2 separate regions of the Homo sapiens genome follow, and region 1 is linked to region 2. Evidence: fine-mapped expression QTL. A gene starts in region 2. The other region holds a variant in brackets. All regions are shown on one strand. Distances are from middle to middle. Region 1 overlaps MYO1H (myosin IH). Region 2 holds the start of KCTD10 (potassium channel tetramerization domain containing 10).

Evidence for each region.
Region 1: its variant is fine-mapped to the expression of KCTD10 in lung (TOPMed, PIP above 0.99). The same link has a PIP of 0.9 or more in fibroblasts, subcutaneous fat, tibial artery and tibial nerve.

The regions. Positions count from the first base shown.
Region 1 is chr12:109,446,020-109,455,156 of GRCh38, forward strand. MYO1H (myosin IH) reads left to right here. Exons shown (of 32, transcript NM_001101421.4): 32 at 1,140-2,360. The coding sequence ends at 1,163. It overlaps KCTD10 (potassium channel tetramerization domain containing 10), which reads right to left. Exons shown (of 7, transcript NM_031954.5): 7 at 2,636-5,794. The coding sequence ends at 5,576. Among named protein-coding and RNA genes, the nearest start is that of KCTD10, 27 kb to the right of the region's middle. The variant A/G (reference allele first, on the strand shown) is at 4,658.
Region 2 is chr12:109,471,749-109,480,885 of GRCh38, forward strand. It overlaps KCTD10 (potassium channel tetramerization domain containing 10), which reads right to left and starts at 5,552. Exons shown (of 7, transcript NM_031954.5): 1 at 5,512-5,552. The coding sequence starts at 5,514. UBE3B (ubiquitin protein ligase E3B) reads left to right here and starts at 5,886. Exons shown (of 28, transcript NM_130466.4): 1 at 5,886-6,361. RefSeq lists enhancers at 4,465-5,200, 5,709-5,798.

The DNA.
Region 1 (9,137 bases), 26 kb before region 2:
TTCAGGATGCAAGAAAATATAAACGTAAGAAAAATATGTAAGAAAGAAATGTGTAAAAAATATGTAAGAAAATATAAAGTTGCTTTTTGGAATACATGTGTCAAAGGCTGCCCATGTTAATACCTTTGGTATAAAATGGATCTAACAAGCACAGAGGTTTGGGAACCATGGCTACGTTAGGGAGAAGTCTAGCCTGAGCACACAAGTACGCTGCCTTCCCTGACTGTGCCCATGCTGGGCTGAGGGTCCCAGTGGTCCTCGCTGGCTGCTAGTACACGGAGCTTGTTTTGATCCAGTTTTGCTGAAAACGACATGTTAAAAGCAGAGGGAGCTGAATCTTTAAAATGTATCTTGTATTATAGGAAGAATTTTGATACAAATTAATTAAAAAATGGTCTGTGAACATGGAGTGTCTCATACACATTTAAATTTAAGTGGATTTACCTATAAAGTCATTTTGCAGGCCCGGCGCGGTGGCTCACGCCTATAATCCCAGCACTTTGGGAGGCCGAGATGGGCAGATCACCTGAGGTCAGGAGTTCGAGACCAGTCTGGCCAACATGGTGAACTCCGTCTCTACTAAAAATACAAAAATTAGTTGAGCATGGTGGCACATGCCTATAGTTCCAGATACTCAGGGAGGCTGAGGCAGGAGAATTGCTTGAACACAGGAGGCGGAGGTTGCAGTGAGCTGAGATCGCACCACTACACTCCAGCCTGGGCGATAGAGTGAGACTCCATCTCAAAAAAATAAAATCATTTTGTAGATATAAAATAATTGCCCCTAGACACAATGAACTCCTTTGGGGACAAGTTAAAATAAGGATCATTTTGGATGTAGACTATAAGGTGTCTTTTTAGTTTACACACTGTCTTAAAAGTGACACCCCAGAGACTGTGTCTCTCTCCTCTGGAGTCACACGGAGTCCATCTTCCTCCCTGACTGGTTCTGGCTGAAGAGGCTGACAGGCCTCGATGAGCCAGTTTCTAAGTCTGGCTTGTCTCATGGGAGGTGGCACTGGCTTCTCACAGGCCCTCCACACCCACCTTGCTAATGGTGACAGTTGAGGTGATAACTGTTTCCTTTTGCGCAAAGGGAGCGGGGAAGGGCTGTAAACCGAAGTGTGACTCTCTCCCAGGTGTCAGTCCGGAGGAAGTCCTGATAGAGGATGACGTCTGACCTCTACCATCGCCATTTTTGCTCCAACTGAGGAAACTACAGGGGAAGTGGGGATTGGATCCAGTTAGCTACCTCTTCAAGGTACCAGGCCCGCAGCACTAACAGATCACATCTGAAGAAACTGAGGGGCGTTAGGCCAAAGCCTAATCCCAGCTCCTCAGCTGCCCCATGGCACCTTATTTAAAATGTCACCTTCTGGAAGCAGACCCCAGGTCACCCGAAGGCGCAATTCTAAACACCCTCGACAGGATCTATGTTCAGTGCGCAGTCCAACGTGTCATTAGAGGGTGGGCAAGATTCTCTACCTCTGTCAAGCTGCCCTGAGACATGATGAAATACTGTGTACAGCAAGTTCTCAAATAACATTTCGTTATATGTTGATAAGACATCTGATTCCTGGGCAGGGCCACTGTCTGGGTGGAGTCTGTATGTTCTCCCCATGTCTCTGGGTTTCTTCTGGGTGCTCTGGTTTCCTCCCACGTCCCCAAGGTGTGTGTGTCAGGTGCACTGGCGTGTCTATGCGGTCCCAGTCTGAGTGAGTGTGGGTGCGTGAGCCCCGTGAGAGGAGGACATCCTGTCCAGGGTGGGTCCCGCCTTCTGCCCTGAGCTGCTGGGATTGGGCTCTGGCCATCTGCAACCCTGAACGTGCAGGTTGGAGAACGAATGAATACAAATTTTATTGTAAAATAAAAATGTATATAAAGCATATGAGCACACAAATGGACAATAAATGCCACAGCGCAAAAGCGTGTAGCGAGCCTGCCACGCTTGTGACTGGGGAGGGGCTCCGTATAATCTCACCTTTGCAAGCGTTTATTTACTGATGTATGCGGCCACCACTGTGACCACCATCACTTACCGATTCACCAAAACTTAGGTAATATGGTCTTATTTTTGATTTAATTAAATATACGTGTAGCTCATGTATTTCACAGTTTAATATGAGAAGTGCTTTGGTCTTTATTTAGAAATTGGGTGATGTTTTTGTGCCCAGCAACATGCTGTAGGAATTTAACTCTTGTTTACATCCATTAGCCTCATGGTTTTGCTTCAAGTCTCAGCTTCCAAGAACCTATCGATGACTTACTGTGCATGGTCTGAGACTAAGTAAAGGAAATTTCCTAAAGCTGTGAAATTTGAATTTTGCTTTAAATAAATGGAACTCACATGTGTCAAGGGATTGGGTTTGGTGAACTGAAGCCCTCTGCCCCATAATAGCAAATCAGTGGTAACACCAGCTGATTCACTTTTTCATGAGCCAGGCAGCCTTTGACCCCAAGACTTCCTTTTGGTGTTTGAATTCAAACAAACACTACAGAAACATGACTGTCTTTTCCCTTCCACCTGGAGCGACTTTAAGGGGCTGAGGCAGAACGTGGGGGCCCTGCCTTTGTTGTAAACCGATTTTAGGGGCCTGGTTATGCCGGGCATGCCTGAAAAGAGCCAGAAAACAGAAGCATTTTATGACTTTTATTTTACATGTCGCCAACGTTTGTACAACATACAGTGGCTACATCTAAAACTTTGAGCATTTTTTTATGGCGCAAAGAGACAGAAAGGTTAATGACACACTTAACTGTTACAGTGACTTTGGGTAGGGCCCTAAAGACAGCACACGCTCCAGAGGGCGGGCTGAGTGTTGTTCACACTTGGGTCCTGAATCGCTGTTGTAAGGTACAGAGACACACTTTAACTGGGGAATGGGGTCCCCACACAGTGATCGCCCCACGGGAGGGTGACAGAATATGCCAGGAATTGTCTTGGACATGGGCCCCAGTCACCACAATCAGATGGCTTATTTGAAACAAACAAACAAAAAAAACCCTTGATTACGACACACCAAAGCTGTTCCAATTTGTAAAAAACTGTAGTTATTACATTGCAATGAAATCTCTTTACCAAATCTTGGGCCAGTGTTTTACCTGGATAGTGCTTACATTATAAATATTGGTTTTTGCCCTTAGTGCTAACATAAGAAAAATCAGTTCCTTGTATACTCAATAACAGAGCTTGGACCAGCCAATGCTGTCTATTCACTCATGGCTATAATGCAGCCGACAGAATTGTTCACCATGGAATGTTTTATAAACCTGTTCATATTCCAGAGAGACAAAGACTCAAAACTACAAGTGCAAAGTTGGGTAGAGAGAGCTGCCAGAAACACTAGCTCATTAGGCATAGAGGCCACAGCAAATCAAATTGTTCCACAAACTCATTCTTCACACAAACATTTAAAACACTATGCAGCCAGGTGTGGTGACTCACACCTGTAATCCCAGCACTTTGGGAGGCCAAGGTGGTCGGATCACAGGGTCAGGAGTTCAAGACCAGCCTGGCCAACATGGTGAAACCCCATCTCTACTAAAAATACAAAATTAGCTGGGCATGGGCTGATGGGTACCTGCAATCCCAGCTACTCGGGAGGCTGAGGCAGCAGAATCGCTTGAACCCAGGAGGCACAAGTTGTGGTAAGTGGAGATGGTGCCACTACACTCCAGCCTGGCCAATAGAGCAAGACTCCGCCTCAAAAAAAAATTTATACAATGGCTTTTCCATTTTCCTGGCCAACATTCACTTCGACTTTCTAAAAAAGCTCAACCCAAAAGAAAGACAGGGTTGGTGTTTAACACTTAAACAGTATAAAATATTTACGAAACATTTTGTAAGCCCTCTTTCCTTAGCACTTAATAAAATCCAAATGGCCTAATATAAAAGTTTCTCACACGACAGTTTAAAAAGCATCTGCCCAATACACGATTTTGACATTCAGTCATGATTGTTTTAAAGTTTTATTGTAGACTTTGCTGTTGGATACAAAATGAAGGCATACAACTGTCACAGGCAGGGCAGTAAGTACAAAGTCTAAGCTGTAAAAACCGTTTGAAAATATAAACTCGTTTTTGGAATACATGTGTCAAAGGCTGCCCATGTTAATACCTTTGGTATAAAACGGTAACGATTCCCTTGACAAACCCATCCATCACCTGACGCACATTCACATCTCCTGGTAACTACTCTACCTAGTCTAGTCTCAACCACCCCTGTCAGTCACGACTCACTCCTGTTCCTTTGCAGGTGCAGAGGAGCCTGGGAGGTAGGTCACTGAGAACACCCGTCCTACATAGGCGCTGCGCCCAGCCGGGCTCCAGCAGGGGCCGCCACCTGTGCCCCACAAGCACACGTCCCCACCCACAGTCACACATATCCCTTAAACAAACATGAACACAGACACAAACCAGACCCAAAGTTATCTATCTACCCGCACATCCTCAACCTGTTCACTGCTGGCCACTCTACACTGTGTAAAAATCAGAGGCAAAGACAAGGGGGTCTGTGTTTATAGCAGGGAAGCTCCCTGGGGCTGGTGGTGTGAGGGTGTCCCTGCCTGGATGCCAGGCTGGGAGGACAAAGGGTATGGGCCACACTGAATTTCTAAGCAAAATGACTTAGAAAGTTAGCCCAGCTTCATGGGGAAGG[A/G]GGCTGAAGAGGAGCGGGATCCCAGGGAGGGGTAGTTTATGAGCTATGCCTGTCACAGGGTCAGATGGCCTTCCTGGAGTGGAGTCGGGTCAATCAGGAGAACAACTGGACGGGGCTGGAGTTGGGGAAAGAACCAGAAACAGAGCTGGACACTTACTGCCATGGAAAGTTCTGCTCCTACGCAGACATATGGGGTCCCAGTGAGCACCAGGCCAAAGACCAGCCCAAGGTGGCAAAAGGCTTGATCCCTAAACAAAGCCTTGCACCCAAAGTTGCACTGGTCTCAACGATTTAGACGCTCATTCAGCCATATTTCCACTGCCACAAGCTGCAATTATCAACAAGCTCTAGGCCCAAAGCCACATGGCAGAAAGCACGTCTAGCAAAGCAGTGGGGATTGTGCCCGGGCCAAACACACAGGAACCAGGAGTGGACCTGCTGGGGCTGGAGGATTATGAAATAGGAAGCAGGGAGCTCAGATACCTCTGGTGGCCTCCAACTGCAGGACAACTCTCAGAATTGTCAAACTGAACCCTTAAGGGAGTGTCACCCAAAAAGCCCACATAGGAAGTCGACACCCACAAAAATAAATATTGCAAACAAAAGTTCTCACATACACTTCACACTCATTCATACTTTTCCTCTGAGAACCGAGAAAGCCTGGCTCCAAAGAGTCTCAGATTCTCATGAAAAGTAGAGATCTTAGACACAGCTTGTTCAACGACAGGGGTCATACGCCTGGGTCAAGACAATCAATTTGCCTTGTCAAGCAATACCAAAATAATCATCTGGCTTGTTACAAAAGTATCTCCAGGCTCCAAGGGAAGCAGAAGGGGCCCGGCAGCCTGCACAGGATCTGGGTGTAGCACGGCAGGGAGTGGGGGCGGTGAGAGGAGGGCGGCTCGGTCTCTTGCCTGCTCACTGGTGGAGGTGGGCCCGGTCATCAGGGCGCTTGATGTGGATCCTCCGCACGCGCTCGATCCGCTCCCGCTCCTCGTCCTCGTCCAGGTGGTGGGAGCGCCCCGCCGCCCCGCCTGTGGCCTCCAGGAGCGCATTGTCAGGTCCCCGGCCATCCTGGGCCTCATACAGCAAAATGTTCAGGGTCTCCTCATAAATCCGGGCTTCGGGAAACTCCACCTGTGTTCCCACAGTATACAGGGCAGGTAAGTTATGGCCCACCCCCTCTGCCAACACCTGGACTTTAAGCAGGGCCGCCAGGCTAAATCAGGCCCCTGGGATTCTGCTGAAGGCCACCAGTATTATTTTTAAATAAACTGATATTTTCAATGGCAACACTTACATGTGGTGCTAAATGCACAGAAAATCAAGGGGATGCAGAGAAACAGGTCTCCCTGCCCCTAGTTTCCCTTCTTAAAGGTACAGTTTCTCATCATTTTACCCTCTCAAAGATTCTGTGCATGTAAATATGTGTAATACACATATTTATTCACACACTTCAAAAAACACACAAGGTGGCCCACCACACAGAGTTGTACATGTCTTCCTCTTGTGCCTAACTTAACCTAGAGATCATTCTGTATCAAGGAATTATAAATACGACAATGCAATTAACCATACTTGGATGGCCATTTAGGTCAGTGCTAATATGCTTCTCCTAACAGAGCTGCAACCTTGCACAGAAGTCCTTCCACACCTTAAAGCAGTCTCTAAAGCAGTTTTTTGTACAGGGTCCAGCTGGGGACTCCCACGAAATGGGCATGAGCCCTTCTGCTGTTTGGCAAATCATTGTGTTTGCTCATTGCCCTTCAGGGTTAAGGTGTGATGAACAGGAAGAGGGCCACATAAGCAGGTCCCACACATTTGATCAGACTAGACTCCACTTTCAGGGTGGAATTCGGAGGTTCTGGGAAAAATGGAGCAGGCACACTCTACCCCGTCTTCCTCACTGACACTACAAAGCCAGAATGGGATGCACACAGCAGCTAACTGTGGACTCAGAAGTAAATCATGGCAGGCAGATGGGGGAAACAACAGAATTTGGAGTAATGCCCAACAGTGAGTTTACTGTTTGCTGCTGCCAGCACTGATGCAGCCTGAAACCCTGAAATGGCACCAGGACAGAAGACCTCCAGAAGGTCTCTAGTGGCCAGGGAGGCCAACAGAGTCTAACAGGCAGAGAGGCTGGGAGGAAATCCTGGTTTTCTTTCCTTTTTTTTTAAAAGATATGGGATCTGGCTAATTAAGCTTTAAAATTTTAAGACTTCTCATTTTTAGAGCTTAATAAGGAGCAAGGGGATTTAGAGACCACATGGTCTGATCCCAACTGTTTCTTGATTCACAGACCAGGTTCAGGAGTGGCGTGTTCTTGTGTTTGTGAAGCTGGTTAGGGGCAGAGCCAGGACGGGAGTCCAAGGGCCTCTTTCTTTTCTCTTTTTTGTTTTGAGAGGGAGTGTTGCTCTGTCACCCAGGCTGGAGTGCAGTGGCACAATCATAGCTCACTGCAGCCTTGAACGCCTAGGCTCAAATGATTCTCCCACCTCAGCCTCCCCAAGTAGTTGAGACTATAGGCATGCATCACCATGCCCAACTAACTTTTTGTAGAGATGAGTGTGTTGCTATGTTGCCCAGGCTGGTCTTGAACTACTGGGCTTAAATGATTCTCCCACCTCAGCCTCCCAAGTAGTTTAGACTACAGGCACACACCACCATGCCCAGCTATTTTTTAAAAAATTTTTGGTAGAGACAGGGGTGTTGCTATGTTGCCCAGGCTGGTCTTAAACTCCTGGACTCAAGCAATCCTTCTGCTTTGGCCTCCCAAAGTGCGGGATTACAGGTGTGAGCCACCATGCTCAGTCCTTTTCTTTATTTTCTTGCACCCAGACCTGAGCATTCCTGTGGCAGCAACCAGAGACTGCAGGAGTCAAAACTCTGAGGGAAGGAACCTTCTTTTCTGATGAGAAGAGCTGTGGTCTCAGCAGGATTGGGAGAATCTGGTTGCTTTTTCTATCTTCATGCTCCTGGGCCCAAAATACAGGCATGGTTACAGAAAGTGGGTGGCAAAGGGGGAATAACCAAACCCCCAGCTTTCTGGCTGGCCGATCAGAGAAGGGGACTCCAGGGAAGCTTAGAGAACTGCGGAGAAGAGGAGCTTGAGAAAGCAGCCTGTGAAGTTGTATATGAACTCCTAGACCCACACCCAGCTGCAAGATCTACCCCTAAACTGCATACGCAGACTGAAAGAACTGAATGCTGCAAGAGATACTGCCCAGGACAGACGGGCCACAGCATGGCACACAGCTAGGACAGATTTGAAGGCTTTGAAAATCAAACTGTCACCGCAACTACAAACTACAGAAGGCTGGTTAGAGCTTGCAGCCTGAGCCCAACTGGGTCAATTGCCTGCTAAAACAAAAACATCAATGTTCTCCCTAGGATTTAAACAAGGCCTGGAGTCCTTTAACAATATTCAAAATGTTTAGGATACAATCAAAATTTCTCAATACACAAGAACCAAGAAATTCTCAACTCCTGTGGGAAATAACTCACAGATGCTAGCGCCAAGGTGACACAAGGTTTTGGAATTACCTGACAAAGACCTGGCAGCAGCTATTATTAACCTGTTCCAGTAAGTAAGGGCCAATGCTCTTAGAGCAAATGGAAACATAGGGAGTCTCAGCAAGGAGACAGAAAAACCAAATGAGCACTTGAGAACTGACAAATACAATAACCAACAACCTCAAACAAAAACACAACTTACCAGCAGGGCTCAATAACAGAGTGGAGATGAGACAGGAGAGGAGAGTGATATGGGCTGGGTGCAGTGGCTCATGCCTGTAATCCCAACACTTTGGGAGGCCAAGGTAGAAGGACCACTTGAGGCCAGGAGGTCGAGACCAGCCTGGGCAACATAGTGAAAGCCAGTCCCTACAAAAATAAATAAAATGAGCCAGGTGTAGTAGCATGCACCTGTGGACCCAGCTACTCAGGAGGCTGAGGCAGGAGGATCACTTGAGCCCAGGAGTTCAAGGCTGCATTGAGCTATGATTGTGTCACTGTACTCAAGCCTGGGTGACAGAGCAACACTCTCTCTCAAAACAAAGAGAAAAGAAAGAGGCCCTTGGCTTCCCATCCTGGCTCTGCCACTAACTAGCTTTACAAACACAAGAACATGCCACTCCTGAACCTGTCTGCTAATCTAGAAACAGTTGGGATCAGACCATGTGGTCTCTAAATCCCCTTGTTCCTTATTAAGCTCTAAAAATGAGAAGTCTTAATCTTTTAAAGCTTAATCAATATGGTGACTCTCCTCTTACTACCCAAGGGCAGAGGCAGCCCAGGTATATTTTTAAAAAATCAAACCATGACAGAATGGGGGTCTAATTACAGGAAGAATTCACAGCCCTGAAAAAAAAAAAACAGTTCACAGGAGAAAAGGGGCATGATGTCTTGCCAATGTGGAGAGAGAGGCAGATGATTCTGGTTCACCCCCTGCCCCCGGGATCTTTGAAAGCAAAAAGAA
Region 2 (9,137 bases):
TTGAGGAAATTTGCCCCAAAATGCAAATACTTTTTAAGCACCCCTTTCAGATCTAATTTTATATAATAAATGCTTGTTATGGGAAACGATCTAGCATTTTGGAAGGTGCCTATCATGAAACAGACAAAAAAGTACATAAAGTATACTTCATGTAAAGTCAAAGCACAGTAAATATGTGATATGAAGGATTTTTTTCTAATGGCATACTTGTATAGGACACTTACCATGAATGGAGTGTGTAGGCCTGGAAATTGCTCTGGGTGAGCGAGTGGTGAGTAAATGTGAAGGTCTAGGACATTACTGTACACTACTGTAGCTTTATCAACACTGCACAGGGAGGCCACACTACATTTATTTAAAATATTTTTTCTTTCCATAATAAATTAACCTTTGCTTACTGTAACTTTTTACTTTAAAAACTTTTTAATTTTTTTTTAACTTTTGGACCCTTTTGTAATAACATAGCTTAAAACACATATTGCACAGCTGTACAAAAATATTTTCTTTCTTTATATCCTTATTCTATAAGCTTTTTTCTCTTTTTTTACTTTTTAAACTTTTTTATCCAAAACTACAAAATACACACACATTAGCCTAGCCTACACAGGGTCAGGATTATCAGTATCACTGTCCTCCACATCCTGTCCCACTAGAAGGTCTTCAGGGACAGTAACACGCATGGAACTGTCATCTCCCGTAAGAATCCCTTCTTCTGGGATACCTCCAGAAGCACCTGCCTGAGGCTGTTTTACAGTTTTCACTTAAAAAAAAAAAGGCAGGTAGGAGTATATTCTAAAATAACCATTAATAGTAAATACATTAACCAGTGATATATCTATCAAGTTCATTACTATTATCGACTATTATGTACTGTACATAATTGTGTGTGCTAGACTTATACAACTGGCAGCAAAGTAGTTCTGTTTACACCAGCATCACCACGAACACGTAATATGTTGTGCTACCACTGAAATGACAGCTACACTATCACTGGGCTACAGGAATTTTTCAGTTCCATTATAATCTTAAGGGACTGTTATATACGCAGTCTGTCACTAACCAAACTGTCATTATGTGCGCATGACTGTACCTTTTTTGGCTTTCCAATACCTTTTTAAAGATAATTTGCACATAATGAAGTATACTTTAAGTGTACAGTTTGATGTGTTTTGGTCAATACTTGCACCTGTGTAGCCCCCACTCCAATCAAGCTGTCTTGGAACATTTCCATGCCTCCAGAAAGCCCCTCGGTGTCCCTTGACCACTGCATTTCTACCACATGCCTTTTACAAATTCAAACAATGCTGGAAGACAGCTATAGTTATTTCCATTTTGTGGATTTGGATGCCACAGCCCCATCAGGGTCAGTCACTCTCAAGCTGGAGTTGAGTCAGTGACGGGGCCAGTGAAGGACATGGGCAAGTGGTGGCTGGCCCAGAGACCATCACACCTAGTAGATTGAGAGCTATGATACATAAGCTGAGAAAGGCCAGCCTCACCTCCCTTCTTTAAAAAGTACAAAAAGCCCTGAAAATAGTCGCGAGGTAAAGTGTGGCTAAGGGTTTGGAGTTAGACCTGTGCATAAGGCCCCAGCCCTACCACTTAGTAGCTGTGTCCAGGGCCAAAAGCCTCACCTCCCTCACAGGGCTCCCTAGCTCTGAGTAAACACTCCAAACACTCAAATTATGATGATTTGAGAATGCTCCCGAAGTCTCAAACTATCTTCTCTTTGGAAACTGTTTCCAGCTCTAATGGCAGACGGCATGACTAAGAGATAAAGGCAGGAGCCATCCTGATCTAGAATGAGACTACAGATTAGGCAACAAAAGCTCTAAACCTTTTCAGAGCTCACCCTCTCCAAAGGTCAGTCAACCTAATAGTAGGCAAGGCCCTTGGGGGAAAAGTTTTGGCAGCATTCGTGTCCTTGAGCCCAAGTTACAGTGAACTTAGGACACGAGGCAGTGGACCAGAGACCCCCACCATAGCAAACCTCTCTAGGGAGGACTCTCCCCACTGTTGCTACTGGAATCCTGCTTTTTTTTTTTTTTTTGAGACTGAGTTTTGCTCTTATTGCCCAGGCTACAGTACAACGGCACGATCTCAGCTCACCGCAACGTCTGCCTCCCAGGTTCAAGCAATTCTCCTGCCTCACCCTCCCGAGTAGCTGGGATTACAGGCATGCACCACCACACCTGGCTAATTTTATATTGTTAGTAGAGATGGGGTTTCACCATGTTGGTCAGGCTGGTCTCAAACTCCTGACCTCAGGTGATCCTTCTGCCTCGGCATCCCAAAGTGCTCGGATTACAGGTGTGAGCCACCGCGACTGGCTAATTTTGTATTTTTAGTACAGACGGGATTTCTCCACATTGGTCAGGCTGGTCTCGAACTCCCGACCTCAAGTGATCCATCTGCCTCGGCCTCCCAAAGTGCTGAGATTACAGGCATGAACCACCGTGCCTGGCCAGGATCCTGCTTTTTGACTTGTTTCAAAGGTTTGATTTCATTACCAATGAAGCTGGGGAGGTGAAGCAGGAGACAGCAAAATTGGTTACATGAAACAGAGAGGCAATGAATACTTGAGATACTGGCTACGGATCTGATTCAATCAGAAGTTTATTCCAGTTAAATGGTCAGTCTCTCTTCTCTCCATCTCCCCTGAATATAATGTTGCTGATTCTAAACAGTGGCTCTCCAGTTGGTGACAATCGAAATCAGCTGGGAGCTCAAAACTCCTGACACCTAGGTCCTACCATGAAAATTCTGATGTAATTGGTCCGGGATGTGGACTAGGCAACAGAATTTTTAAAACTCCCTCAGGAGATTTTAAAGCCCACCAAGATTAGAGCCCACTATTCTAAAAAGCACTGTACCCCTTATTTAAGCTACCATTAACTCCACGGTCTTGGCCCAGTGAATTCCTGACCTGACACATTAAAAACAAACCAAAACACCATAAACCAAAGCCAGCCCCCACTTCACAGCTTCAGAGCCACAGGGAGGAAGCAACTGTATGCATGCATGAAAATACAAAAATCAGCTGAAGGGGGAAAATCATCGACTGAAAAGGAGGCTCAGGCAAGTACAGTAGGAAAAAACGCACCAAATCCCTGACCCCACGTTTTCTATATGCTTCTCTGTAGAAGTCTTGTGTGCCTGTGTGTGTGTTAAGGAAAACGGGATAGTCTCGGCAAACCTGGATTGCAATCCAGTTCCACCATTTCCTTCGTGAAATTCAAGCAATTTAACCCAAGTCTCAGTTTTCTAACTTGTAAAATGGAGTGTTAAAGCCATAATCTTCAAAACCCTCAGAGAATGAATGTTAAAGCATTTGGCACCTAGTCCTTTGTGTAGTTTCCTTTGGGCGTCTCAAACATTGGGATCAGTGGTTCCCAACCCTGGCTACTAGAATCACCTGCGTGTGCTTAAAAAACATGATGCCAGGCCAGGCACAGTGGCTCACACCCATTATCCCAGCACTTTGGGAGGCTGAGGCGGGAGGATTGCTTGAGCCCAGGAATTCGAGACCAGCCTGAGCAACATAAGACCTAATCTCCACAAAAAAATTAAAAAAAAAAATTAACCGGTCATGGTGGCACACACCTGTAGTCCCAGCTACTCGGGAGACTGCGGTGGGAGGACTGCTTGAGGCAGGGAAGGTGAGGCTTTAGTGAGCCAAGATAATACCAGTGCACTCTCCAGCCTGGGCGACAGAGCAAGACCCTGTCTCCAAAAAACAAAAACAAACTCACACACACCTGTGCTTGCCTGGGCTACACCCCAGATCAATTAATCAGTATCTCAGAGATGCGGAGGGGTGGCTGATCAGTCACTAGTGTTTAAAAAGCTCTTTGGGGGATTCGGATGTGGGACCAGGGCTTACTGCCACCTAGCTAAGGTATTTAACCAGCTTTATCTAAGAGTTGCCAGGGATGTGAGGCAAAGCATCACCTCAGGGGATTCCTACAGCAAAGAAGTTTAAGAAACACTGTATTGAGGCTTGTATAAAACCTTCCCAAACTGAGGGCATTTCTACAACTCAGAAAAGTCTGCTGTTACATTTCAACTAAACTAAGTCACATAATTGCAGCATTTTACATCCAAAATTTGCTTATAAGACAGCTACCGCCAATTGCAACTTCCATCAAATGACATTCTCTCCCTGTGTTTAATACACAAACTCTTGGTCTATTTCTCTCAATGTTCTAGTGAGAAAGATGTTTATCATCAACCCCACTTTTTTGGGGAGAAAACTAGGAATCACACCTATAAGAGCCCTCTGACTCCCAACTCCTTTGCCCCTTTCATTACACAGTCCAAATCAAGAAATCATTAGTCTAATCCCTTGCAGGGCTTGTTAAAACCGATAGATGGGCTCCACCCCAAGAATGTCTGATTCAGTAGTCTCTGACAGGGCTTGAAATTTCAGCCATTTTGAATAAGTTACCAGGTGTTGCTGCTGGTGGGACCAGAGTTTGAGAACCACTGGTTTATGCTGCCTTCTTCCCATCCGCTGGTCCTTATTTTGCACAAAATGGAGCGGACTAGTCAACGTCAGCTACAGGATAACTGACTTTTCTTCAGCAGCGTCACTGGGACTGATTTTCCCTTAAGACTGCACTTTCCAGGGACGTGACAAACAAGCAAGCAAGTAGAAAGAAGATCTGGGCCAATCTTTGGTCATCTCTACCCAGGGACAATGAGCTACTCAGGGAACAGACCCTTGAGGATCCCAAGCAGACAAACCCCACAGCTGAGAGACAGATCTTGAAACATCCTCCGCTCCTTAGGCGTGGTCACCTCTGGCCTCAATGGAAGTTACAGATAGGTACCCAGGCGCCAGCTGAGGCACTGAACTCCGTGGCGCAGGTATCCTAACCTCAGGCCCCTGGCATCTCTCCCCAGGATTCCAAGCACTGAACGCACATCAGCCTGCTGGGCTCTCTCGATTTCTTTCCCTCACTGGGCCGTGTGTTCAGACGCACCTGGGAGCCCCTTCCCCACTTCCTGGAAACTCAGCGACTCCAGCCACAACCTCCAAAACGCCAAACGCTCCGCCCCAAGGAATCCTACCTCACCTTCTCATAACCTGCCCATTCATTCTCCTTCATAATCCTCCAAATCCTCATTTTCCACCCCCAAATGTCCGTTTTCAATTGATATCTCTTTGTTCTCCTCGCAATCACCAACTCCCATCTCCAACCAGCACTCAGGACTCACTTGGAGACACCCCTTCCTCACGCACACACGTATCTACTCCGCAAGCCCAAATGTGCTTCCCGGATTCCTAACCGCCAGGGAGCCTCCCTACCACCACCCCCGCCCCTAATTCTCCACCCAAAGCCCTTCCCCCACCCCGGGCCTTTCCCCTAACCAATCCCCCAAATGCCTCTCCACTATCGTGACTGCCCCTCATCACACCCCCTCCTCTCGGTCCCTTCTTATACTCTGCTGCTGCCCAGCTCCCTCGGCCGCCCTCAACCCCTAGTCCATGGGCACCGCCCTCCCTACCATGAAAAGTCGGAGGACGCAGGAGTCTCCAAACCCGGACTGAGAGAGGCAGGAAACACCCAGCTCACGCCAGCCGGGGGCGGAGGCGGGGCCGGAGCGATAACTTCCGCTGTCCGCACCCCACTTCCGCCCCGCAGAGGGCAACGTCTTAAGCCGTCCGTTGTGCGCCTAGGGGCCAGTTTTCTTTCCAGCCTCCCCGGCCGGAGTGGGTTCCAGCTTTTCTCGGCTGGGGAGGGCATTTATCCCACCTCCGCTATTTCAGCTGCCAGAGGGGAGGCAAGGTGTGGGGAAGTTTTCCTTCCCGGGCGAAGAAGCTCTGCGGAACTGTCATTTTCCGGAACTGGATGCTTGCTTCCTGGCGGGGTTCTGAAAGCGAACACCGCGGGGCAAGATGGCGGTAGTGCGTCGGCTGCTGCCCCGGGTCTGGCAGAACTCGGGTGTTTTGGGCTGAGACAGTGGCAGCTGCGGCCCCGACCCCAAGTGCGGGGACCTCCGGCGAATAAAGGTCGGCCTGCGGGTAGGCCGGTAGGGCCTGCGGTCCGGCCTGCGGGAGAACTGGGTCGTCAGTCCTCCGAGTGGTGGGGCTGGGGACTTTGAGGGAGTTGGCTCTAGGGCACAGTCCCTGCCTGGCCAGGTCGGAGGAACAAGTGCTGGGATCTGGCGTGTGTGCTCCAGGGGCTCTTTCCGCGGCCCTTTCCACCTCTTTTCACTTTGGGGACGGTAGGCCTTTATAAACGGACTAATGCTGGGTGATTTGTTCCTGTGGTTGTTGATGCCGAGGAAAGACTCTGGGCCCCAGGACTCACCTAAACTGGAGTTCGAATACTGTTCGCTCGCTGTGTGACCTTGGGTGAGTTCCCTCACCTCTCTGAGCCTCAGTTTCCTTCTGTGTAAATGGAGTAATTAGCAGGTTTCACAGAGGGTGTGAATACGTTTTAGTACCGTGCCTGACACCTAGTTCTGAATAAAGAAAAACTTGATCGTAATTTAACTCCAGCTTAGCCCCCACAGGCAATCTTGCACTCTCAACTTCTCTTTGCTTGGCCATTCTGTGAACGGGGGAGCCCTGGATCTTGTTTGTTTTACTTAGTGATAAATAACTGTTTTGGATATACATGGATTCAGATTCAAAAGCATCCACCTTAGATAGGCTGTAGCTTTCAATAAATAGTAGCTGTTAATATGAATAGTCTCTTTAAGTCGTGTTTCCTATTCTTTAAATAAAAATTAGATTATTGAGGCTGGCCACGGTGGCTCACGCCTGTAATCCTAGCACTTTGGGAGGCCGAGGCGGGCGGATCACCTGAGGTCAGAAGTTCAAGACCAGCGTGGCCAACATGGTGAAACCGCATCTCTACTAAAAATACAAAAATTAGCCGGGCGTGGTGGCGGGCGCCTTTAATCCCAGCGACTTGGGAGGCTGAAGCAGGAGAATCACTTGAACCTGGGAGGCGGAGGTTGCAGTGAGCAGAGTTCGCGCCGCTGCACTCCAGCCTGGGCAACAAAGTGAGACTCCGTCTCAAAAAAACAAAGATTATCGAGAACTGATAGAGCTGTTGAAAAGACAAGTTGGTTAAATAATCTGTGCAGTGTCTGATACACCGTCTGCCCAGAACAAGTGGTGGTGGTCATTAAACCTGGTGGCCCAGCTTTTCCTACTGCACAGGGACAATCCTCTTGGCTTAGTCAGCAGTTGGTATTTATGATGCTTCAGCTTTGGAAATATAGAGGTAAGACAAGAGTCTGAATCCTGCCTCTTAGTTATTACAGCCTTGACTCTGCCACATACTAATGGTCTAGACTGGAGTAGATGAGATCATGAATGATCTTCTCATAGGACTCCTCTCCTTATTAGATGAGATCACTTATAAAGGACTTGACACATAATGGGCACTCATTTACTTTTTTAAATGATCTTGGTTATCACCAACCTCTTATTTTCTAATCTTTCTACCTATATGATTCTTGTTTCCCTAACTAGATTGCAAGCTTCTTAAGGACAATACAATAAAGCTCACTTACATGCTACATGCTTTTAGATATCCTATATTAATATTTTCCCATTTAATCCTAATCACAATGTTGTGATGACTAAATTGAGGTACAAGAAGGATAAATGTTGCATTTAATCCTTTCAGCAACCCTAGGACATAGACACTATTATTACCCTCGATTTACACATAAGGAAACTGAGGCCTAGAGAGGATAAGTAACTTGGCCAAATGTCGGATAGAAGGAGTACTAAAAAGAACCAAGGCCCGCTTTCTCTGATGCAAGACTTTTTCTGCTGCGCACAGCCTTTTCTTTGGTTCTCCATGGCATTTAGCAAAATAAGTACTTAATAAACACTTGATTGTGTGTTTTATTAATTGACGAACTATAGTATACACTGTGCAGGTGGAGAAGGTATATAGGAAAGGATGAGAAAAACTGTAAAGTGTAGGCTATTATATGATATGAACAGAAATCAACCAATAACATTGCTGAAGGGATAATAATCTCAAGGAAGGGGATAAGAGTAATTTCTTATTCTGGGAGGGCCCCTGGGAGAAGTGAAAGTTTTAAGATCGTCTTACAGTGCTTAGGTACAGTTTGCATGCAACTTTGTTTTTCTTTTGGGAAGAGGCTCCCTCTTCCCCTTCTAATTCCATGGACCCTCTGCCATTGAGGCACTGTCTGCATGTCATGGAGGGAGCATATCATTGTGCTTGTGGCTTGGGCCCTGCTCTTTTGCAGTCCTGAGGAGCTTGAATCTGTTACTCACTCTAAACAACAGGGCCAGGAGTTCATAGCCCAAGGGACAGGACTGGTGAATCTTAGTGCATTTAAGATAGGAAAAAAGTTAATGGGTGAGAAATGTCAGACTGCCAGCATTATTTCCTACCCAGAGAACCTTAGTAACTGTCCAGGTGGGAGCCTCTGCTGAAGAGTTTTTTTTTTTTTTTAATCCTTGTGTCTATAAAAATAATACACCAGTTAGACTTCCTGACTATACACTCTACAATGTGCACTCAAGTACCTCCATAGGTACCTGATAAGCATCATCACATTTAGTCCTCATTATCAACCTCTAAGCCAATTAATAGATGAAGATGGAAAGACTCAGGGCCCAGTGTGGTGGCTCATACCTGTAATCCTAACATTTTGGGAGGCCAAGGCAGGAGGATCTCTTGAGCCCAGGAGTTTGAGACCACCAACCTGGGCAATATAGCGAGACCCCACCTCTACAAAAAATTTAAAAACTAGCCAGATGTGGTGGTATGTACCTGTGGTCCCAGCTACTTGAGAAGCTGAGGTGGGAGAATCGCTTGAGCCTGGGAGGTAGAAGCTGCAATGAACCATGATTGCACCACTGCACTCCAGCTTGGATGACAGAGCGAGACCCTGCCTTAAAAAAAAAAAAAAGACTTAGACATTCTCCCTATAGTATGTGGCAGAGCTAGGGACTGGCTCCAACTCTGTGTGACTCCCAAAGCCCGTGTGCCCCTCACTGTGCAGTGCTGCTTCACCATGTGCATGCTGTGGAAAATTTAGAAAATACAGACCAATTAAGAAAAATTTCCCGCAATTTCAGTACCTCAAAACAGCCACTGGTAACATGTTGGTATAGTTCATGCTAGTTTTGT